Regions from separate parts of the Homo sapiens genome. Here all the other regions are linked to region 1. The links come from fine-mapping of genetic effects on gene expression. A gene starts in region 1. Each other region holds a variant in brackets. All regions are shown on one strand. Distances are from middle to middle.

What was found. PIP is the estimated chance that this variant, and not a neighbour inherited with it, causes the effect.
Region 2: its variant is fine-mapped to the expression of RHOXF1-AS1 in whole blood (TOPMed, PIP above 0.99).
Region 3: its variant is fine-mapped to the expression of RHOXF1-AS1 in pancreas (GTEx, PIP 0.95).

What each region holds. Positions count from the first base shown.
Region 1 is chrX:120,032,014-120,040,198 of GRCh38, forward strand. It overlaps RHOXF1-AS1 (RHOXF1 antisense RNA 1), which reads left to right and starts at 4,223. Exons shown (of 5, transcript NR_131238.1): 1 at 4,223-4,519.
Region 2 is chrX:120,095,426-120,103,610 of GRCh38, forward strand. All of the region lies in intron 1 of RHOXF1-AS1 (RHOXF1 antisense RNA 1), which reads left to right. Among named protein-coding and RNA genes, the nearest start is that of RHOXF1, 16 kb to the right of the region's middle. The variant C/A (reference allele first, on the strand shown) is at 4,238.
Region 3 is chrX:120,122,187-120,130,371 of GRCh38, forward strand. All of the region lies in intron 2 of RHOXF1-AS1 (RHOXF1 antisense RNA 1), which reads left to right. Among named protein-coding and RNA genes, the nearest start is that of LINC01402, 6.6 kb to the left of the region's middle. The variant C/T (reference allele first, on the strand shown) is at 4,796.

The DNA.
Region 1 (8,185 bases):
GAAAATGAGAGTTGGTCAGAATCAGCATTAGGGTCTGAATTTTTCACCTTTCTTTATGGTATATGCTATGGAAAATATCAATTAACTTGTAACTTGAGCTTTACCTTTTTACTCTATTGCTAGGAGTGAATCATATTACAACTATTTGAAGCTAGAAGACTGTAGTGGTGCTGTGTATCTTGGATTTCTCTTGATTTTTTGCAAGTGCAGTTAGCCAGAAGGTTTTTTTATTTTTTATTTTATTTTATTTTATTTTATTTTATAGCAGTTCTGACTGATGTGGTCCAGCTACCCTCAGAGCCACTGACCTTGGGCCAATATGTTGCCTACTCTTAAGTATTTTGAAATACTGCATGGAAAAAAATGTCATTTATTTGGTTGTATTACTATATTTAATTAGTTGAATAGATATGGTTAGTTTAATTTGTTAACTTGGCTAGGTGATGGTACCCAGTTATTCAAACACTAATCTAGATGCTGCTGTGAGGGTATTATATAGATGTGGTTAACATCTATAATCAGTTGCTTTAAGTAAAGGAGACTGTCTTGGATAATCTTGGTGGGCCTCATCCAATCAGTTGAAATGCCTTAAGAGCAAAACTGATATGCCCAGAGGAAGAAGAAATTCTGCCTGCTGACTGCAGCCTCAGTTTCCACCTGAGAGTTTCTAGGCTTCCCAAGTTCCCTACAGATTTTGGACTTACCTAGCTGGACCCCACAATCATCTAAGGCAATTCCTTGAAACAAATCAAATACATATATACCCTGTTGGTTTTTTTTTTTTTTTTTTTCTGAAAGAACCCTGACTAATACAGATTTTGAAACTAGAAGTGGGATGTTGCTGTACTAAAGACCTAAAATGTGGAATTGGCTTTGGAATTAGGCCATGGATAGAGACTAGAAAAATTTTTGAGAAGCGTGATAGAAAAAAACCTAAATTGCCCTGAAGAGACTGTTGTTAGAAATAGGAATATTAAAGTTGATTGTATAGAGGTCTTGGAAAGAAATGAAGAAAATGTTACTGAAAATGGGAGGAAAGGCAATGCTTGTTATACAGTGACAGAAAACTTGGCTGAACTATGTTCTTCAGTCACATGGAAAGCAGAACTTGAAAGTGATGAACTTGGATATTTGGCAGAAATTTACAGGCAAAATCCTTAAGATTTTTCTTTGTGAACCCCAAGATCTTTACCCTAAAATGGTTCTGTTGAATTTTACCCTGACAATGTAAATTGATAGCTTATCTTCATAACCTGGTTTCTCCTTGCTGCTTATAGTAAAATGTAATATTGATACAGACAGGAGACAGGGAAATACTGGGTAGAAGAGGGTGGTTTCCCAGCAAAGGCCCCACCCTCAAGTCTGGAAACCCGTGGCCCTAAATGGGAACAAGCGTTCCTGTTTTTGTGCCCAAATGCTGCCTTTTGGCCTGCCACGCCCCTGTATCCTGTACCTGTATAAACTCCAAACCCCAGGATCCACAAGCAGATGAGCAGACAAGCAGAAGAGCAGAGGAACAGAAGAGTGGTGTGGCAGAGAAGGAGAGAAGAGAAGGAGCTTCTGAACATCAAGAGGAGTTAGGCTGGGGACGGTAGGAGAGGAGATCAGCCAAGGGACGACTGAACTCCAGGGGAAGATTATCTTCCCACTCCATTCCCTTTCCAGCTCCCCATCCATCCTGCAGAGAGCCACCTCCATCCAGCAATAAAATACGCCACATTTACCATCCTTCAATTTGTCTGTGTGACCTGATTCTTCCTGGATGCTGGACAGGAACCCAGTACCAAGAGGGCACTGAGCTGTTTAACACTTAAGCTGTCCCTGGATGGCAGGGCTAAAGGAGCATTGTAACATCCCTGGATATTGCTGTAGGCCCAGAGCCCAAAAGTGCTTGCCCTAGCTCAAATGCGTGCTCCCCCTCCCATAAGGGGTTTGAGCATGCAGTGGCCAAACAGACGAGCCACACCCCTGTTGCAGGCCCTGCAAGGGGGGTCAGTGAACTCTCCCATTTCAATGTGAAAGATATAAATTGAGGAAAGAACTATTAGGCAAAAAGTAACTAGCACTTGATTTTGGAGGTTCTCAGCCTATCGTGATTCCAAAGGATGCCAAAATTAGAAAATTTATTGTCGCAAAAGCATACTCTGAAGAGAAGGCCAACAGTATGGCTGGACAATCTTGCTAAAGAGATTATATATGTGATTCATGGATCCAATCAACCATATCAGCTGAAGGCAGGAATAGAGATGGGTTTATCCAGGAAGGATCTTGTCTAATGACATGGACTCCCATAACACACACGAGACTGATAAGGATTTTGAGAATGTTATATCAACAGAAATACTGGCATCTTGGAGTAAAGGAGATAGATATGGGATGAAATGAAGGAAGACTGTTGGACTTCTGGAAATCTATAGGCAGGATATGAGCTGACAGGGCTACTAGACTGCAAAGACACATTAGCCTTCAAGAAAAAGGAAGAGTGAATTATGAGGGTGGCACAGAAGCTGGTGGATCACTGCAAGACCAGATGGCAGAACATTGAGCTAAAGAGGATTGTTCCTAGGCCTTGAAATCTAATGGAATTAGCTATGCTAATTATTTATTTATTTACTTTTTTGAGATGAAATCTCATTCTGTCACGCAGGCTGGAGTGCAGTGGTACAATCTCAGCTCACTGCAACCTCCACCTGCCAGGTTCAAGCAATTCTCCTGCCTCAGCTTCCTGAGTAGCTGGGATGACAGGAACTCACCACAATGCCCCTCTAATTTTTGTATTTTAGTAGAGACGAGGAGGGGGGTTTCACCATGTTACCCAGGCTGGTCTCGAACTCCTGACCTCAAGTGATCCACTCACCTCAGCATCACAAAGTGCTGGGATTATAGGCGTGAGCCACCACACCTGGCCCTGCCATGCTAAATTTTGAACTTACTTGGGACAAGAAACCACTTTATGCCTCCCATATTCATTCTTTTGGAATGGTAATGTCTTGTAAAAGGAAAATAAATCTCAGGACTCCAAAATCATTAAGCCAAAGGGAAAAGTCAAGCTGGGAACTGCATCAGGCAAACCTACCTCCCATTTTATTCTTAAATAAGATAGCTACAAACAAAAAAAAAAGCTACATACATGTCTCACAATTTGTCCACTGGGACATTCCTTTTGAGCCCCAAGATGTTTACCTTAAAATGGTTCTGTTGAATTTTACCCTGACAATGTAAATTGATAGCTTATCTTCACAGGTTCTAGACAAAGAACAGAACTCAAAGTCATCCTTCTGTTCATCTGAGACAGATGCATATCTGATTGCTTTCCTAATGTAAAAATGCAGATTCACTGAGCTGACAAAGGCATAAGTAACTATTCCTCTACCCTTCTCTCACATGTAAACTGTGTATTCAGTGAAAGGTTTATCAAACACTCAAAATAATGCAACCATTTGTCTGTTATCTACCCACACCTTTAATTTTTTTTCCTTTTCCCCCAATATCTGCCCTTTTGCCTTTAAATACTGAAGTCCACAAAATCTTCTTTGGAAAAAGGCATAGACCTGCCTTCCAGATGCATGTTCTTAACCTTGGTAAAATAAAATTTCCAAGTTAATTGAGACCTAGCTCAGATACTTTTTGGTTTACAAATTGGTAACCACCAAGGGATTCTGAGTGGAGGTGCCCCTGACCTTTGACAAATCTTCTATTACTGCTTGGTACCAGCTTGAGATATCTTTATTGCTCAAATCAATAGGCAGATTTGCTGAGGCCTGGGAACTTCCCCCCTCCAGACAATCCCTTGTAGCAGGACGAGCTGCAGACAAAATCTTTCAGACACTGAGTTGTAGAAGGAAGGGCTTTATTCAGCTGGGAGCATCGGCAAGCTACTGTCTTAAAATCCGAGCTCCTCGAGTGCACAGTTTCTGTCCTTTTTAAGGGCTCATAACACTAAAGATTTCACATGAAAGGGTCGTGATTGATTGAGCAATCTAGGGGGTATGTGACAGGGGCTTCATGCACCGGTAGTCAGAGTGAAACAGAACAGAGCAGGGAGTTTCACAGCGTTCTTCCATACAATGTCTGGAATCTATGGATAACATCGGTTGCTAAGTCATGAGTTGATTTTTAACTACTAGGTTTAGGCCAGGCAGGCCCAGGCCTGGTTTCAGTTCTGGTTTTGGGTCTGGTGCCTGGCTGCCTGCCCTTGGTTTCACTTCCTTGTTTTTTTCTTAAAACAGGTACTGAGTATAAAACAATATAAAACAATATGAGAGGGTCCGTCTCTTCCCTCACCCTGATCTCCCCAAATTTGGTCGATATCTAAGGTTTTTTTTTGCTGTACAACTCCTTTTCTGGAGTTTTACTCACTTTCAACAAGGAAGGTGAGTTTTCCTGCTTCCATGATGATGGAGGGCAGGCAACTCCTTTCTGGAGTTTCAGCTCAATTCCAACAGGGAAGGCGAGTTGGAGTTTTTTTCCTGCTTATAGGCTGGTAGAGAGCAGTGTTGAGCCTGGACTCCATTCCTAGGTAAGTAGCTGAATTGGGGTTTTATCTTGAAAATTCTCCTTAATGACCTAAAGTTAAGATTAACAACCAGCAGCTCTTAATTTCTCCTTACCATTAGAGTGCTCAGGAATTGTATACATAGTATGATCATTTGTTTGTTTTGCCAAACTGTTTTTTCATTTATTTGTTTGTTTTGTTGTTTTGGTCTTTTTCCCATTGGATTTGACTAACTCTACCCAACTATATCAAATGTGAAGGAAAGTTACAAATGGTGAGGAACAACGCCTCTGCATTGGGTAAATTCCTGCAGCTGGGGGGGAAAAGGGAAAAGGATAAACAGCCATCAACAGGAAAAAAGAAAGATTTTGACTACCTGAGGGGCTTTATTTACATAACAAGGCCACCTTTTGCTAGCCAAGCCAAACTGTGCTCCACACTGCAGTTCTGTAGCTAAGGTTTTGCCCTTTTTTCCACCACAACAGCCTGGGTTTGGTTCCTAAATCAAGTTCTTTCTGGTTTGATATTTGTGTTATTTTTGAAATATCAGCAATTTGTTCCAGCTAAAATAGGGTAGTGAGATTTAGAAGAATTTTTTAAGAGCTTAGTGGCTAAAAGTCAGTTTAATTAAAAGCTAATATCCACGATGTGTGTGTGTGTGTGTATATTTAAAAGGCCTTTATGGTTTTTTGTTTTGTTTTGTTTGTTTGAGAAGGAGTTTCACTCTTGTTGCCCAGGCTGGAGTGCAATGGTGCGATCTTGGCTCACTGCAACCTCTACCTCCCGGGTTCAAGCAATTCTCCTGCCTCGGCCTCCCAAATAGCTGGGATTACAGGCATACGACACCACACCCAGTTAATTTTGTATTTTTAGTAGAGATGGGATTTCTCCATGTTGGTCAGGCTGGTCTCAAACTCCCGACAACCTCAGGTAATCTGCCTTCCTCAGCCTCCCAAAATGCTGGGATTACAGGCGTAAGCCACCGTGCCTGGCCTGTTTTTTTTTTCTCTCCTAGTACCTTGTTTTTTGAGAAAAAGGTTTTTTCCTTCTCAGTCAGTCAAATGAATTCTGTTTTCTCCATTTACTTCTGCCTATCTCTCCTTTCTCTTGTTCCCCTCTGCTGCATGAGGGACCCAAAATAGTTTCTAACAGCCTGTAATTCCTTAAATAAAACAGAGAAGGCACTAGAGTCCTTTTTGAGGAGAAACATCTGTTTTTCCTTATGGAACCCCAAGAGTCTAAACAGACAAGTTCCTCTCAGATCTTAAACTGCTTGCTTTTGTACTGTGTTACCTGATTTTTGGACTAAGTTATTACAACAGAGGCTACTCTTCGGGTGTTTAAGATAAGAAAAGGTATACTTTAGACACTTAGAGGAAAGTCTTTGTAACAAAGTGCAGTGCAAATGCATCACATGGTCTAGAATCATGATAATTCTATCTTTTGGAGATCCAGGATTCAGCGTGGGCTCTGCCCAGAGCTGAGATCCAGTTAAAAGCTAGAGACTAGGCTGGGCACAGTGGCTCATGCCTGTAATCCCAGCACTTTGGGAGGCCAAGGTGGGCAGATCACGAGGTCAGGAGTTCAAGACCAACCTGGCCAACATGGTAAAACCCCATCTCTACTAAAAATACAAAAATTAGCGGGGCATGGTGGCAAGTGCCTGTAATCCCAGACACTTGGGAGGCTGAGGGCATGCCCAGCCGATGCTACACTTTTAAACAGCCAGATGTCATGATTACTCACTATCATTAGAACAAAACTAGAGGGGAAATCTGCCCCTATGATCTAATCGCCTCTCACCAGGCCCCATCTCCAACACTGGGGACTACAATTTGATATGCCTTTGCAATATCAATTGCTGCATACCAAGTTCTCTCTGTTTTGGGCCTCTGTAATAGTCACAATGTCAGGTACTGCTGGTGCCAAAGGTGGTATTACGCATTGAGCTGCCTAAAATCAGTGGTAAGTCTCCAAGAAACCAAGGTCTTGTGCACAGGCCAGATGGGGCTATTGAATGGAGAAACAGTCTCATGAAACATTTTGGCTTCCTTAAGCTCAGCAATGATGGCAATTATTCTTTTTCTCCCCTAGGCAGCTGACATTGTTTTTTGGGAAACAACAGTACTAGGTGTTGGTCATCAGATGGGTCCATGGTCTTCTATATTTCTCACTAAGATGGCCATAACTATTGCAATTCCTGTCAGGGCTTGGAGGCAAAGGCAAGTGGGGCTGCACATGGAAAACACATCACTGCCAATATTTCATTCAGTAGTGGGGGCCATGACAACGGAGGTTAGTAGGAGCCCAAAGTCAGAGAACACGATCTGTTTTCTCCTCATCTTGATGCAAGGGTTTGTGGGGATCACAGTCACCTGTGTACTGGTATCTAAAAGGCCTAAGAAGTGCAATTCCTCTCCACTGTTCAGTTGAACTCTAACCTTGGCATAGGGCCTCTGGGTCCCCTGAGTACAGAAGGATCTTGTTTATAACCCCTAAAATCTTTGGATTTTTGTTTGTAACCCCTAATCTTGTTTATATTTGAAAGCTGAGTGTCAGAGCAAAAGTTGCTCAGGATCTCTGATTTGTCTCCAAATCCACCAGGAGAGGTGGAAGGCCATCACTGTGCAGACTCTAGCGGGACCACTTATCAAATCCCCATGGCCTGGTACTTGGCCCTGAATTTTTTAGTGGGGAGCCCATCAATCTGCTTTCGTGGTTCCATTATTGAGTAATCAGACTCAGAGATCTCTTTGGGAAGGCCCTTGCCCAGACAGTCCAGAAGAGGGCACTCAAGTACTATTTTTATGCTCCCTTTTTGGAGGGGAGGGGTCAAATTTTGCTATTTTATCGGAAGCCATTTCTTCTGTGCCTGAGAATTTCTGAGTTAAGATCTGGATCACACTGCAGATTGATGGACTTGACCTCAGGAGGTGGCTTAATTGGGCTTGACAACAAGCAGGAGCAGCATGAACAAACCCGTAAATCTAAGTCTGGTTAATCTTCTCATCTACCGTTCCCACTCCCTCGTAGTAGACCCAAGAGACCACCAGGAGGGCTGCAGGACCTCCATAGTCTCTGCGAAGGTGGTTGAGACATGTTTTTCAGTGACTAGGTACTCATTATGTGTGGACCAAATCTGTCAGAGACCAAATAGTACCCAGCTGAGGAAAGAGATGGTCGTTGGTATACATACACTCTCATCTCCCCACCTTGCTCCTCCTCCTCAGAGAAAGTGGCCACTATCAAGGCACTATGGAGGAGGGGGTCTGTAGTGATGTACCCCTCAAGGAGCCACTTTCCTTTATGAAGTTTATTTAACAAGATTACCTTTTTCGTAATGGAAGCAAACTAGCCAAGTCTCTGTGGTTTCTTCCCCTAAGCAAGTCTTCCTTCTGGCTTGGCTGCTGGGCATTGACCCTATCTAGTGAGATCACTGGACAAAGTGATTCTAAAGAGCTCTACATTATTTTTATTAGAAGCATGAGTCTCAGTAACATGCTGCATGGCATGTTGTCCGTCAGCCCCAGGGAACTGCTTAGATCTAGGAATAGTTTTGGGGTACAGGTCAGTTTACAGGGTCTCCAACGACTTCTGGCCCCATCATCAGAGAACGGTGTCCAGGGAATTGTTTCTGTGGCTTCTTAGAGCCCCTCTGCTGGATCTCTTATTTGATCCACTAGGTTATCT
Region 2 (8,185 bases), 63 kb after region 1:
CATTCATTCAATTGATATCTGTTGATCACTCATTATGTGTCAGGAAACAACCTTAAGCAAATTACAAGATACGAATGCAGACATTAAAATGAAAACTATGAAGAAAATGATAAAATGTTGAAAAGCATTTCTGAAATAGTGTTAAATGGAAAAACTGGACCACACTATTGGATACTGAAAGTAATCGTTCACTGAGTTAGGTCCAAGAGCTGAATTGAGTCAGAGAAGTTATGTGATTTGGGGAAATTTCTAGTAAGAAACTTTTCAATGGAAATCTTAATTGCCCGACTTTTGTGGCACCAGAATGTATACTTTCACATAAAAGCCAATTTTGCAATTGTGGTTCATTTGCCAGACTCCTGATTGGTGGGACTTTAGGTCCTCAGAGAACAACCCCACCTCTCCTATTCCCAACTCTCCCACCTCCAAATGGCGCACGATGTTCTTGCCATTTCCGGAGAGCAGCCTGTGTTTCTTGAATGGGAAGTGAGGGGAGGCCAGAGCACACCAATGACAGGGGAGGGAGGCAGGGAAATGCTGGGAGGAGAAGGCGGGGTCCCTAGCAAGGGCTCCACCCCGGTCCTGTGCCCATGGACCAAAGTGAGGACAGGCATTTCTGTTTTCATGCCCAAATGTTGCATTTCCCAAGACCACCCTGGCCCACCACGCCCCCATCCTGTGCCTATAAAAACCCCGAGACCATATTGGCAGAGACACAAGTGGCCATGGGCAGACAGAAGTGGCTGGCCCTCGAGAGGAACACACTGGTGGAAGAGCACACCGGCAGACACCAGCAGACACCAGCAGATGCCAGCAGGCCGACCAGCTGAACAACACTGACTTTGGCTGTGGTGGTCAGAGGAGAGCCTGGCCGCTGGGTGGCCTGACTCCAGGGGAAAATCACCTTCCCACTCCATCCCCCTTCTGGCCTCTCCATCCACCTCGCTGAGAGCTACCACCACTCAATAAAAAACCTTGCACCCATCCTCCAAGCCCACATGTGATCTGATTTTTCTGGTACACCAAGGCAAGAACCTGCGATACAGAAAGCCCTCTGCCCTTGCGATAAGGCAGGGGGTCTAATTGAGTTGATAAACACAAGCTGCCTACAGATGGCTAAACTGAAAGAGCACACGGTAACACATGCCTACCCTAGACACTGCAGTGGGATTGGAGTCACATGTCACTATACTGATCTCTTCTTTGCAATAATTAAGTTGTTTTTCTGTTACAGCTTTTTTTTTTTTCCTTTTTTTTTTTTTTTTTTAAGATGGAGTCTCACTCTGTCACCCAGGCTGGAGTGTAGTGGTGTGATCTTGGCTCACTGCAACCTCTACCTCCCGGGTTCTAGTGATTCTCGTGCCTCAGACTCCCCAGTAGCTGGGATTACAGGCATATATTTAGTGGAGACAGGGTTTCACCATGTTGGCCAGGCTAGTCTCCAACTCCTGATCTCAGGTGATCTGCACACCTCAGCCTCCCAAAGTGCTGGGATTACAGGTGTGAGCTACTGCACTTGGCCTATGTTATAGCTTCAGGGACATCCAGCTTCCATTCATTACCGGTCTTCCCAATCTGTGACCCTGCAGCATGGACTAGCACATGACTGCCACTTAGAGCACCCATGCAGGACTCCGGAGGGGAGCCAATAGGGAGTAGGGGTTGTGCAGGAATGTATTATGGTCTGTGTTCATTCGACTCTACATGAAGGCCCTTCCCAATTATATCAATAACTTTTTAAGAGATTTCAACACTAAAAAAAGCTTTTAATCACTAATGTGTTTTTGGAAGGACCTGAATTATGTACTTTTAAAATTAATTTTTCTCGTGAATAAACTAGTTATTATTTTTAGTTAATACAGATTTGTACGGATTTGATACCCAACTGAGGAACTGGCTTTGTGGGTCCCACTAACAACTGGCTTGACAAGCTTTATGATGATGAATTGTTCCTATTTTTATAGGAAGGAGTTTGATATTAGGCCACTGTGCATATGGAAAATTTCCCAAACTCCTGGATTAGTCAATTGGAATTTTAAATTGGAAAATGCTCTCATAAATAGACGATTGTTTCTTGTTTTATCTCACTGGGAACAACTTGACAGTTGTGTCTTCTAACAGGTAGAAACGTGGTTGCAGCTTGTGGGGGTGGGGGTATTCTGATGACCAAAAAGCACAGGGTGAAATGGAGTGATGTGACCATTCCAGGGTGCTTTCTAGCTAAAGATCCTGTGTGTGTGCATGCATGCCTACATGCACGTGTGTCTGCAAAAGAGAGAAGGAACAGCCAAAAATATAAGCTCATGGTTTGGAAGGAGAATTCAAGTGCTCTGCTGACCACCAAGTTCCTAGGGAAACAGGTTGTGAGAGGGATTGAGAACAAGGAAGCCTCAGAATTTGGTCAACAACCCAGATCTCTCAGCACAGCCAATGGCTCATTGTGCCATATTTTAAATGCAATTGAACTGTCAATTCACATCCATGCATGAAAGACAAGAAGCATTATTATTCCTGTATTATCATACAGGAAGCATTATTAAATATAAAATGGTGTTTGGCTTTCTTTGGTCTAAAAACTAATAAAAGTAGGTGCTAAAGGAAATTTTTCAGTAGAAAGGCACCAAGGACTGCTGATGATCCCACATTTAAAACAAAAGGTCAATTTCTTAAAAATTGCATACTTGGTTTATCTTCCACTTTCCTTTCCCTTAAAACTAAAAGTCTTTTAGCACATGTACCACCCCTAGAATTTCTGGTAAACCAGCACTAGCCTGAGGATCATGTTCTCATCAAAGGGTAAAAAGAAGGGAAACTCGAGCCAGCCTAGGAAGGACCCTTCCTTGTGCTGCTAACCACCAAGACTGCTGTTCTTACAGCAGAAAAGGGATGGACTCATCATACCCGAGTCAAAGCACCACCCCCTCCAGAGTCATGGGCCATAGTCCCAGGGGAAAACCCTACCAAACTCAAGCTAAGAAAAATTTAATTCTTTCATCTATTCTATTACTTTCTTCTTTCCTCGCTCTATTACTGACCATGTAGTTATTAACATAACCAAGTCAATTTCGCCTCAAACTATTGCATTTAATGCTTGCTTTGTTATACCCTGCAGGGACTTGCTAAGCCAAAAACAGCTCTCTACTTCAAAAAAGTACCTCTGTCCCTCCTGACTCTCCTCAGACTGGGCATTAGTAAATTAGGACCATCTAATCCAGGGAGATTTCAATAAAGACCCCAGTGTCAACCAGGAGTCTTGCCCCCCGATGTGGAGCTTTTATGCCGTAGTTGGTCCAAAGTTCTGTGGACCACTAAAAAGCAAGAATGAACTACCCCAACCAGTTTTTGTAATTTCCTAAAACCATACATTCATTTTACTAAAGAATCATAGAAGTTAAAGACTTAAAACAAACTTTGGCAATTAAGGCAGTATACCAAGATGCAAATGCCTGGTTGGAATGGATCAAATATTCTTTCCGCACATTAAACAAAAGCAATCGTTATGCTTGTGCACATGGCAGGCCAGAGGCCCAGATTGTCCCCTTTTCACTAAGGTAGTCATCCAGTTGACCAGGTGTGGGCTGCATGATAGCTCTTTTTCAGGATTCTACAGCCTGGAGTAATAAGTCGTGCCAAGCTCTCTCCGCTATGTCCTGAAGTCTGGCACCCTGCGAGTCAGCCCCTGAGGGCCATCCAGCTTCCATCTCCCAACACTAAGTTCACTTCATGTCTCTCACAACAGGGAGAAAACTTAGCATTCCTTGGAGACCTGAAGGGATGCAGTGAGCTTAAGAATTTTCAAGAGCTTATCAATCAGTCAGCCCTTGTTCATCCCCGAGCGGATGTGTGTGGTATTGTGGTGGACCTTTACTGGGCACTCTGCCGAATAACTGGAGTGGCATTTGTGCTTTAGTCCAATTGGCTATCCCTTTCACCCTGGCATTTCATCAACCAGAGGGAGGAAAAATAAGACATCATAAAGCGAGAGAAGCCTCTTATGGGTCTTTCGACTCTCATGTCTATTTAGATGCAATTGGAGTCCCACGGGAAATACCAGATCAATTTAAAGCCCAAAATAAAATAGCTGCAGGATTTAAGTCAATATTTTGGTAGGTGACAGTTAATAAAAATGTAAAGTAAATAAACTACACCTATTACAACCAACAGCAACTAGCTTTTCAGGAGTTAAAAGAAAAACCTCATGTTGGCTGCAGCCCTGGGGCTACCTGACCTGACCAAA[C/A]CTTTTACACTGAATGGCAGTTAGAGATTTAACCCAGACTGTGGGGCCCTGGCTGAGGCCAGTGGCCTACCTCTCTAAATAACTAGATGGGGTTTCTAAGGGTTGGCCCCCATGTTTGAGGGCCTTGGCAGGAACAGCCCTACTAGCACAAGAAGTGGATAAGCTAACTCTTGGGCAAAACCTAAACATAAAGGCCCCCCATGCTGTGGTGACTTTAATAAATACCAAAGGACGTCATTAGCTAACAAATACTAGACTAACTAGATACCAAAGCTTGCTCTGTGAAAAATCCCCACATAACCATTGAAGTTTGCAACACCCTAAACCCCGCCACCTTGCTCCTGGTATCAGAGAGCCCAGTTAAACTTAACTGTGTAGAGGTGTTGGACTCAGTTTATTCTAGCAGGCCCAACCTCCAAGACCATCCTTAAACATCAGTAGACTGGGAGCTGTACGTGCATGGGAGCAGCTTCGCCAACCCCTGCAAAGTGACTCTGAAGAAGATGACAAGCCCTGCCCCAGTCACACCTGGAAGCTGACTGGTCCTTGCATGGTCAAAGCATGAGGAAACTCATCGCAGGACTCATTTCCCTTAAAATTTGGACTTGTACAGTAAGAACTTCAACTGACCTTCCTCAGACTGAGGACTGTTCCCAGTATATACATCAAGTCACTGAGGTAGGACAAAAGATTGCTACAGTCCTATTATTTTATGGTTATTATAAGTGTACTGGGACTCTAAAAGGAACTTGTTTGTATAATGCTATTCTATACAAGGTATGTAGACCAGGAAGTGACCAGCCTGATGTGTGCTATAACCCATCCTTTTTCCTACTGCCCATAAAAACAGGCGAACTTCTAGGCTTCCCAGTCTATGCTTCCCAAGAAAAGAGAAGCATAGCTATAGGCGACTGGAAAGATGACAAGTGGCCCCCTGAAAGAATCATACAGTACTATGGGCCTACCACTTAGGCACAAGATGGCTCATGGGGATACCCAACCCCCATTTATACTATCAACCGAATCATACGGTTATAAGCTGTCTGAGAAGTAATCACTAATAAAACTGGCAGAGCTTTAACTGTTTTAGCCCAGCAAAAACCCAGATGAGAAATGCTATCTATCAAAATAGACTAGTCCTAGACTACTTGCTAGCAGCTGAAGGAGGAGTCTGTGGAAAATTTTACCTAACCAATTGCTGTTTGCACATAAATGATCAAGGGCAAGTAGTTGAAGACAAAAAGATATGACAAAACTGGCACATGTGCCCATGCAAGTATGGCATGGACTTAATCCTGGAGCCATGTTTGGAAAATGGTTTCTAGGGCTAAGAGCATTTAAAACTCTTATAATAAAAATTATAATAGCAATAAGAACCTGCTTACTACTCCCTTGTTTGCTACCTGTACTCCTACAAGTAATAAAAAGCTTCACCGCTACCTTAGTTCACCAAAATGCTTCAGCACAGGTGTACTATATAAATCACTATTGATCTGTCTTGCAAGAAGACATGGGTAGTGAGGATGAAAGTGAGAACTCCCACTAATGAGTGAGGTTCTCAAAGGGGGGAATAAGGGAGGAGACCACCCCTCATATTGTCATATGCCCAATTTCTGCCTCAAAGAAAAAGTAGGAGTTAAAAGACAGAAGTGAAATCAGTAGTCAGACAGCCCAGCACTGCATTCCAGGCCTGGTAGTTAAAGATCGACCCCTGACCTAATTGGTTATGTTGTCTATAGATTCCAGACATTGTATGGAAAAACATTGTGAAAATCCCTGTCCTGTTCTGTTCTGTTCTGATTACTGGTGCATGCAGCCCCCAGTCACATATCCCCTGCTTGCTCAATCGAACACGACCCTCTCATGTGGACCCCCTTAGAGTTGTAAGCCCTTAAAAGGGACAGGAATTGCTCACTCAGGGAGTTCGGTTTTTGAGACATGAGTCTGCCGACACTGCTGGCCAAATAAAGCTCCTTCCGTCTTTAACCTGGTGCCTGAGGAGTTTTGTCTGTGGATCGTCCTGCTACATTTCATGTCATTAGGACCTTCTGAGACTGTGTCATGGGTGCATCCTTAACTTTGGTAAAATAAACTTTCTAAATTGATTGGAACCTGTCTCAGATACTTTTGGTTCACAAGTTGGTAACCAGGAATGGCTTCTGAGTGGAGGTTCCCCTAACCTTTGACAAATCTCCTATTGGTGCTTGGTACCAGTTTGAGCTATCTTTATTGTTCAAACCAATAGGACAATTTGTGAAGTCCTGGGAGCTCCCCCTTCAGAGAATCCATGATCTCCTCAAATTTGGCTGAGATCTAAGGTTTATTTTGTTGTACAACTCCTTTTCTGGAGTTTTACACAAGGAAGGTGAATTGTCCTGCTTCATGTTGATGGAGAGCAGGCAACTCCTTTTTGGAGTGTGAGCTCACTTCCAACAGGGAAGGTGAGTTGAAGTTGTTTCCTGCTTCTAGGATGGTAGAGAGCCATCTTCAGACTGGGCTCCATTCCTAGGTAAGTAACTGAATTGGGATTTTGTCTTGGAAATTCTCCTTAATGACTAAAGTTAAAATTAACAACCAGCTGCTCTTAATTTCTACTTACCTTTAGAGTGCTCAGTAATTGTATAAGTTGTGCAATTTTTTGTTTGTTTTGCTTAACTATTTTTGTTTGTTTCTATTTTTGTTCTTCTTTTGGTCTTTTTTCCATTGGATTTGATAAACTCTATCAGACTTAGTCAAATCTGAAGGAAATTTCCAAATTATGGGGAACAATGCCACTGAATTAGCTAAATTCCCACAGCTGGGGAAAAAAAGGAAAAAGAAAAAATGACCAGCAAAGGGGAAAAAGAGGAAAGATTTTAACTACTGAGGGGTTTTACTTACATAACAAGGCCACTTTTTGCTAGCCAAGCCAAACTGAAAGAGCAACAGCTGTTGTCCCATGGTGCAGTTCAGTAGCTATGGTTCTGCCCTTTTTTCCCACCACAACACCCTGGGTTTGGTTCCTAAATCAAGTCCTTTCAGGTTTCATATTTATGTTACTGTTGAAGTATGAGCAATTTGTCTCAGTTAAAATATGGCAATGAGATTTAAAAGGATTTTTCTTTGAGATGGAGTCTTGCTCTGTTGCCCAGGCTGGAGTACAGTGGCACATTCTCGGCTTACTGCAACCTGCCTGCTGGGTTCATGCAATTCTCCTGCCTTAGCCTCCTGAGTAGCTGGGATTACAGGCATGTGCCACCACACCAGGCTAATTTTTGTATTTTTAGTAGAGACAGGGTTTCACCATGTTGGCCAGGCTGGTCTCAAACTCCTGACCTCAAGTGACCCACCCACCTTGGCCTCCCAGTGCTGGGATTACAGGTGTGAGGCACCACACCCGGCTTAAAAGGATTTTTTTTTTTGGAAGAGCTCAATGGCTATGAATCTGCTTAATTAAAAAGCTAATATTGAAGATTTTGGGTGTGTGTGTGTGTGTGTGTGTGTGTGTGTGTATGTGTGTGTGTGTGTCCACTTAAAAGGCCTTTATGGTTTTTTTTCCTAGAACTTCATTTTTTTTGTAGAAAAAGTTTTGTTTTTCTCAGTTGACTGAATTCTGTTTTCTCCATTTTTCTTCCTGTCTCTCCTTCCTTTTGCCCCTCTCTGCTGCATGAGGGACCTAAAATGGTTTTTAACAGCCTGAGATTCCTTAAAGAAAACAGAGAAGGTGCCAGACTCCATTTTGGGGAGAAACCTCTGTTTTTCCGTATGGAACCTTAAGAGTATAAACAGACAAGTTCTTCTCAAATCTTAAATAGCTTGCTTTTGTATTGTTACCTGATTTTGTTTTGACTAAAGTAGTTATTACAACAGTGGCTATTCTTGGGTGTTTAAAATCAGAAAGAGTATAGTTTAGACACTAAGAGAAATGTCTTCACAAAGAAAGTGCATTATAAAAGCATCACATGTTCT
Region 3 (8,185 bases), 90 kb after region 1:
ATATATATACACACAAATACATATGTGTATATATATTAGGGAGGACATCTATGTGAAGATTATCGATAAGATGGGAATAAAAGCATTGTCTATGCCATAGAATTGAGAAGAGGAATAAATGACAATATATGTAAGTACCTAGCACAATACCTAGTCACAGAGTAAGACCTCAGAAATATTTGTTACTATTACTCTGTAATATATCCTCTCACCACAGTATAACCCATGGAATATGTGACATAACAGAATAAGCCTGGTTAGGAGTCACACATTTGGTTCTTTTGGAGATACACACTGAAATATTTACTGATGAAATGATGTGACGTCTAGATGTGCATCACAAAAATCCAGGGGGAGATCCAAGTGTGTTTGAGAATTGGTTAGGGTATTCATGAAACAAGGTTGTCTATGATAATTGTTGAAACTGGATAATGGGTACAAATAGGGTTCATCTTTACCATTCTCTCTGCTTTTGTATATGTCTGACAGTTTGCATAATAGAAAAATTGTAATAATCAGAGTTGTAAATTCAAATGTTGACAAGGCCAGACAGGTAACATAAAAGAGAGAAGCAAGCAGGGTAGGGACTGTGGCAAACTGGGAAAGAATATGTCTCTTCCAAAGGGGCAGCCAGTATTCAGCTCCAGCTTAGTGTTGCTGGCTGGCAATGTTGGGCCAGGACTGCCAGATTTTTCAGTTTTTCAAGATTGGCCACAAATTATAATGTTGATATGAAACCTTCAGTTCTTTAAATGTTGGTAACTAACTGAAATATGTTTTATTGAAAAGTATGCTGGCCATCTAAATCAGGTCTGCAGAACAGACTCAGGCTGGAGCTGCTAGTTTGTAAACTCTGCCTGAGAAGCCAATTTTAAGCAATTTTCATTCTCTGGAGCAGTAGAATATAATTGACAGCGTTTCTAAAGCCAACAATCCAAGAATGCCATTGTGCTGTCCTGCTGTTCCTTATTGTAAGTCCCGTGCCCATATATGCTTTGCTCTCTGCCTTCCATCCCTACCTGAAGTTTCTCTAACTTTATCTTTCATTCTCTTTACTTGGTTCTGATCTTAAGGTTCAGAGCACTGATGACCAAGACTTCACAAGTGTCCAAGAGAGGAGACCTCACAGTAATGAATTAGGCACCAGCTCACCTGATCTTTCTCTCTGGTACATTTTGCAGCTGTTCTTAACAATATGCAGGTCCTTTGGACAGTTTTCAGAAATATTATGCCTCAAGGGGCAAGGCACCAGGCTGGAAGGGCAGGGCACCCTTGAGAAGAAAAAGGGAATTTTATAAAACTAGTATCAATTTGTGATCAAGTAGAACTTCCTGAAGTTCAGCAGTTCTTTCAATCTCCCTTTTTTTCTTTTTCTTCTCTTATATTGAAGTAAAATTTAAAATTTAATACTTTTTATTTTTTAAAAGCATGTATGGCATCATTTCAGTCTTATTAAATTCTCTCTGCATCCATTCACCCATCCTTCTTTTTGTGTGTGTGTGTAGTGGTCTCTGTGAGAGGGTTCATTAATGTCAATCCTGATCATTTCTTCCTCAAGAGATGTCAGTAGATTTGTTTTTTTTTGCTTTGGACTTTTATGAATTGATTGAATTTTTATGCCAATTATTTTTAAAGTATTACATAGAAGAACAAATGGACAGAAAAATTTAAATGCAATCAAATCTTGTTGATTTTGAAGTATAGGAAATAATCTTTTTTTTATTATACTTTAAGTTTTAGGGTACATGTGCACAATGTGCAGGTTTGTTACATATGTATACGTGTGCCATGTTGGTGTGCTGCACCCATTAACTCGTCATTTAACTTAGGTATACCTCCTAATGCTATCCCTCCCCCCTCCCCCCACCCCACAACAGGCCCCAGTGTGTGATGTTCCCCTTCTGCATTGTCAGGTAAACTGCAGGACACTCACTTGTATTTGAATTTCAAATAAGCAACAAATATTTTTGTATAAAGTATGTCCCAAATATTGCATGAGACACAGTTATCTAAAAATATTTGTTGTTTATCAGTAGTTTGACTCAGCACTCCGTATTTTTATTGCAACTCTCATATAAACATGTCATTTTCATAGGAAATGCTTTAAATACTTTGTCCTTTTTTTCTCATCCATTCATCCCATTTATATTTTTCTTTTAATTTAGGAGATTAAGGAAAACATTAGGTACTTTGATTTGAGCCATCCCTATAATTATACACATGCATATGTTATATACACTCATATATATATTATCTATATACAGATATATGTGACAGTGTGCTCTATATAATACCTGATGTAAACACACACGAAACACAAACTGAACTGACTGTATTGTTGAAACAGCTGCTCAGTGAAATACGTCTTGTGACCTGTGGTCCTTCTGAAACCGACCCAACAGTTCTATAGACCAGTGGTCCCCAGCCTTATCAGCACCAGGGACTGGTTTCGTGGAAGACAATTTTTCCATGGACTTGGTGGGCGGGGCAATGGTTTTGGGATGAAACTGTTCCACCTCAGATCGTCAGGCATTAGTTAGATTCTCATAAGGAGCACGCAACCTAGATCCCTTGCATGTGCAGTTTACAGTAGGGTTCGCGCTCCTATGACAATAAAACGCCACCGCTGATCCAACAGGAGGCAGAGCTCAGGCGGTAGTGCTCGTTCACCTACCACTCACCTCCTGCTGTGCAGCCCATTTACTAACAGGCAACAGACCAGTACTGCTCTGTGGCCCAGGGGTTGGGGAACCCTGCCAAGGACTGTTCATTTTGATAAAAATAGAAATGGACCCTTCTGGTGTTAAAGTTTGAACCTTACATTTGTTTTATCTGAGTTCCTTCCTCAGGAAGCAACCTTCAGGCCTCTCAAAAAAAAGGGATCAAAGAACTGAAACTCACCAGATCACTACATCCAGACAGTGAGATGCTAGACCCCTCTTTCATCTTGATTGCTTCCTTGCCCCTCCCTAGTTCCTGTTTTCTTATACATTGTTAAATTTCTTCCCTGCTATATAAACCCGTAGTTTTAGTGGGTTCGGGGGATGGATTTGAGACTGAGCTTCCATCTCAGCTGCAGCATCCGATTATAGCCTTTTTCCTTGGCAATACTCACTGTCTCTGTGATTGGCTTTCTGTGCAGTGAGCAGCAGGACTTAGACGGTAGCCTTGGTGTTTTGGTAACACTTCCTTCAGTCGTTTCGGAATGAGGCAGAGAAAGGACAAGGTCTCCTGTTTAGCTTAGACTTGAATGTCATGTGGAACTGGAAGGAGACAGGGACCCAGTTGCCCTACTGGCTTTTTTCTTTATCCCCTTATCCCACAGCAGCAGTGAGGTATCTGGGAGTCCTTGGGCTCTGGAGGAAATGTCAAAGTTGTTGGAAAAGCCCCAAGCCCAGCAAATCTGCCCACTCCCTGCAGGACTGCTGCTTTCACTTTCACTCTTGCCCATGGCCTAGGGACTGGAATGGCCTCAGCCATCAGCTGGGTGGCCTCTGCCAAGGCTCTTGAAACCAGTCCTACCGCTCACACTAGTGGTCGTGCTTTCTAGGGTGGCCCTCTGCCCCACATGGCATCCCCTTAGCTTCTGTCTTCTGGTCCGCCAATTATGGCAGCTACCCACACCCCTATGGGTATGACAAGCTGTGGCCTAGCCTCCTCAATAAGGAGAGGGAGGAGAGCCTGTGGCAGAAGTGAGTGAGCTCACCTGCCTGCAGAGTCCCTGACATCTTACTTCTGTCTATTCACATTTCCTCTCTGCCTGCCTTGTGTTTTCACCCTTTCAATCCATCTAGCTGATGGATCCCTTATGCATCCTACCTACTCCCTTACATTCTTACTCTTCATCACGTCCCTTCATAAGTTGCCCTGGTCTCCTTCTTCTCCCTTTCACCTTCTGCTGGAGCACACATGGCCAAACACCTCATACTCACTGGAATTTCCTTGTCTTGTGTTATCATTAAAGAAAATTATATATAATATATATGTTATATATTATATATGTTAATATATTAATATATATTGTATATAATATATATATTATGTAATAAAAATTGTATTTTTTAGTGATGAAGTCTCGCTACCTTGCCCAAGCTGGTCTGGAACTCCTGGCCTCAAGCGATCTTCTCACCTCAGCCTCCCAAGTAGCTGGGATTAGAGAGCATGTTTTTATTCCCCACTACACTGAGCTCCTGGAAGGAAGGACCTCTGTTTTATTCATCCCAGAATTCTAGTGCTGACAAAGATTCTCTTATTGACCGAATTTTACTCAGGTTCCCTTGAGCTCTTTTTCAACTAGGCCTGGAGTTTTGGATTTCTGAGTTTGTCTCTGCATTGTCCGATTTCAGCAAGGAAATTGCTAAGTCCTGCTAAGTCTATTTAGTCATCCCCCATATCCAAGCACTCTCAATATCTAATCTGGTTCCTCATCCTCCACCATCTCCCAGGTGATGTTTGATCGCCCTGGTGCCTTCAGCAAAAATAATGTTAGGTCGGTTTGGCCCAAATCTTCCATTATGCCTGATGTTTCCTCTTAGTTAATTTCCATCCATTGACTCCCACCTTGTTCCTTGGCTCTAAATTCCCACTTGCCCACATTGTATTTTAGCTGATCTCAATCTATCTCCCCCATTGCAAGATGCCATTGCAGTGATTCCTATACTTATCTTGATATTTCCCCCTTGAACACAGTCTTTCTCACCATCTTTAACAAGTGTCATTTAAAAAAATTGAACAGTAATGATGCTGTGACTTTTATAGGATCAGATTCATCATTGGACTCCTGGACCTATCACTG[C/T]GGACCTCAAATGTGCACCTTTTAAGCCCTTTCCTTCACTCCTGACTGATTGATTTGGGATCCACTGCTAAGTCAGACTTTTGAACCATTGTTCCAGGCAAACTTCTGTTAAAGCTGGTAAGGATTGATTTGATTCTTAAGATTCTGAGTATACTCTCTGAAGCAGGTTAGAGTTCCAGGCTTGTTTTGAAAGGTATCTCCTAGGCTGGATGGTTTCCTTCCTGGATCTCTGTCTTGAGTGGGGATTATTCTCTGGCTCCCTGGGCTGAAAGCTTTTCTTTCTGGCTTTCTATTTTGAGTGGGAATTATTCATTGATTCTTTGGGCTGGAAAATTTTTTTTTTGAGACAGGGTCTTCCTTTGTTGCCCAGGCTGGAGCGCAGTGGTGTGATCATGGCTCACTGCAGCCTCAACCTCCCAGGCTCAAGCAATCCTCCCACCTCAGCACCCCTGAGTAGCTGGGAGTACAGGCACACGCCACTGTGCCCGGCTAATTTTAATCTTTTTTTTTTTTTTTTTTTTTGTAGAGACAGAGTCTCACTATGTTGCCCAGGCTGGAAATTTTTTCCTTGTTACTTTGTGAGGCCTCTCTGTTCTATTTGATCCTGTTTTTCCCACAGGAACTTCTGAGTCAACTGAAACACCATTCTTGAATTCCTACTGACTATATGCTCCACCTACACTGTCCAACTCCTTCTTGTTGACATGGTTTTGCTGAGGATAATTTGGAACTTCACTGGTCTTTTTGGGAAACTTATCATCTCCCCAAACTGGTGTCTCTAAGACTTCTCTCTTCCCACTGGTTTCTCTCCTCCTTCCTCCTCTTACTGTAACCAAACGCAGGCTAAGCTGCTCATTGCTTGCAAAATTGAATAACAAGGACGAGGGTGGTAAAAAGAAAGTGACTTTTATTCCAGAGCTTAGCAGTGGGGAAACAGAACAGGCTCCTGCCTTAAGGGAACTGATTTAACTTTCAGGGAAGAAAGCAAGGGCTTAAAAAGGGAAAGTTGGTGTGAAGGGCAAGGAGGTGCGGGGTCTACGTGACTCGCTTGGATGACTTATATTGAGTGATGCCATCTGATGGTCTGGTCTGCACCATCATGGATAGAATTGGATTGTGAATTAATTGTTGTCTTGAGACAATCTCCTGGTGGGGAATTCCAGAGAGTGCCTGTTTTGTTTTGAGATTTGGTCCCTGATACTTCTAAGCAAACATATATTTAGATAAGCTTTCAGTCTAGGTGTTACTGGTGGAGGGTGTCCAGGTTCTTGGCGTTTTGAACAAAGAATTGGACAAAATGCACAAAAAAAGCAAGTAAAGAGTGAAGCAACAAAAGCAGAGATTTACTGAAATCGAAAGTACACTCCACAGGGTGGCAGCAGGCCTGAGCAGCGGCTCAAGGGCCCAGATACAGAATCTTCTTGGGTCCAAATACCCCCTAGAGGTTTCCCATTGGCCACTTGGTGCTTACCTCACGTAAATGAAGTGGTGGCCTGCAATCAGTCTGAATGGTTGCGGAAAGCAACCAATCAGAGGCTGAAGTGAACTTACAAAGGTCACATTCCTATGCAAACATCTGGTGGTTGCAGAAAGCAACCAATCAGAGGCTGAAGTGAACTTACAAAGGTCACATTCCTATGCAAACATCTGGTGGTTGCAGAAAGCAACCAATCAGAGGCTAAAGTGAAGTCAAAAAGTTGTACTTCTATGCAAACGGTGACCTGGCTGGCAATCAATCAGATTGAGCTGAACTAAAGTTATAAAGTTACACTCCTATATAAAGGTCTGATTGGTTGCCAAAATCAGCCAATCAGAGGTACTTTCAATTTCCCATCTGCAGCAAAGGAAAGGTGGGGGTTTGCAAAGGGAGTAGCCTCTGGTCCTTTTGTTACTTAGGTGTGGAAAGTTAGGGCTTTCCTTTCAATTTAGTTCTAGGAAGTTAGTGTGAAACAGCTTTAGGTTCCCTGCCTCCAGACCCTATTCTCCTGCTTCACAGGGAGTGTCTGTTGGAAAGAAGGTAAAGTTTATAATTGTATTCCTAAAGAGTAAAGTAAGAGGTGAGGGAAAAAGAAAAAAAGGTAAAAATAATTCTTTTTAAGAAAATGAGGTACTTGGTTACGACTCCCCACTGTCAAATTCCATTCCATTTTCATGGGATTTGGGCATTGTTTTTATTCTGGCTACTTACTGCTGAAAGTGGGAGGAGTTATAGGGTACCAGAATGGAACTGATCCATTGGAGTTGGAAATATTCACAAGTACTGGGGTTCACAGACAATGTTTGCTGGAGCATTATGGTGCGAGGCCAGGAAAGTCTCTTGGGAAAGCCTGTCTTGCATTTCCATACAGAAGTTGCAACAGCAGTAAAATCCACAGCAAAGAAATATGCCTATCCCTGCAACCAGGGCCAAAGTTATAAGCAGCTTTTGCCACCAGGACGGTCCTGACCTGAACCAGGTTGCTAACCACTGAGCTAGCGACAATGTGGGGTCAGACATAGTTTTGATTTGTTGGTTCATGTCTTGCAGGGCTAACAAGACATTTTCTGAATTATCTGAGATAATATTTAGCATTCAGTCTTAATTACTTAATTATCATGCACAGTCCCCACTATCAATTGTGTCCAGAGTTCTTGTGGGGATATGATGACAGGTGGACTCAATACACAAATTTAACAGTTTTTTTTTAGTTTATATTTCCCACATCTTTTGGTTAAGACATACAGGAGAGGTCATAAATGTTTATGAAGGCAGTCTTGACACATGTGTATGGAACAAATATGTATGTAACATATGACTCATGTTTATTTTTGTGTGGGGACTTAACATATAATGTATTATAATTAGGCCCTAGACATCAAAAGGTCTTTTTAGGACATAAAGGCATGCAAATGTGTACTTTTTGTAAACTAGCCAGAATTAGCCTATGGTCAGTGGTCTTGTTTATAGTTTGGTATCTTATTGTTACAAAGAATCTGTCTTATCAGTCTTATGATCTCCATTTTAATGTTAATGCTTGTCAGTTTTGCCTAAATTCCAGAAAGGGTGGGGATGGTGTAGTGAGGCATGCCTGATGCCCTGCTGTCTGTCATGGCCTGAAACTTTTTCTTTTAGGTTTCTTTGGGATTCCCTTCGGGCAAGAAGGGAGTCCATTTAGTTGGTTGGGGTTTAGGATTTTATTTTTTTTAGTTTATATTCCCCACTGCTTTTGGTTAAGACATACCAGAGGCAGCATTGATGGCTAAACTTTAATTTTGTCCCGTGTTGTTGCCAGGGTGGTGTGTGTCCATTATGTCCCTTGGTAGGACCCCTATGGCCAAGGGACGACCCCTATGGCCAAGGGATTAGAGCCAAAAGATTTATAGGCAATTAAACATTCTAGGCCCGATGGG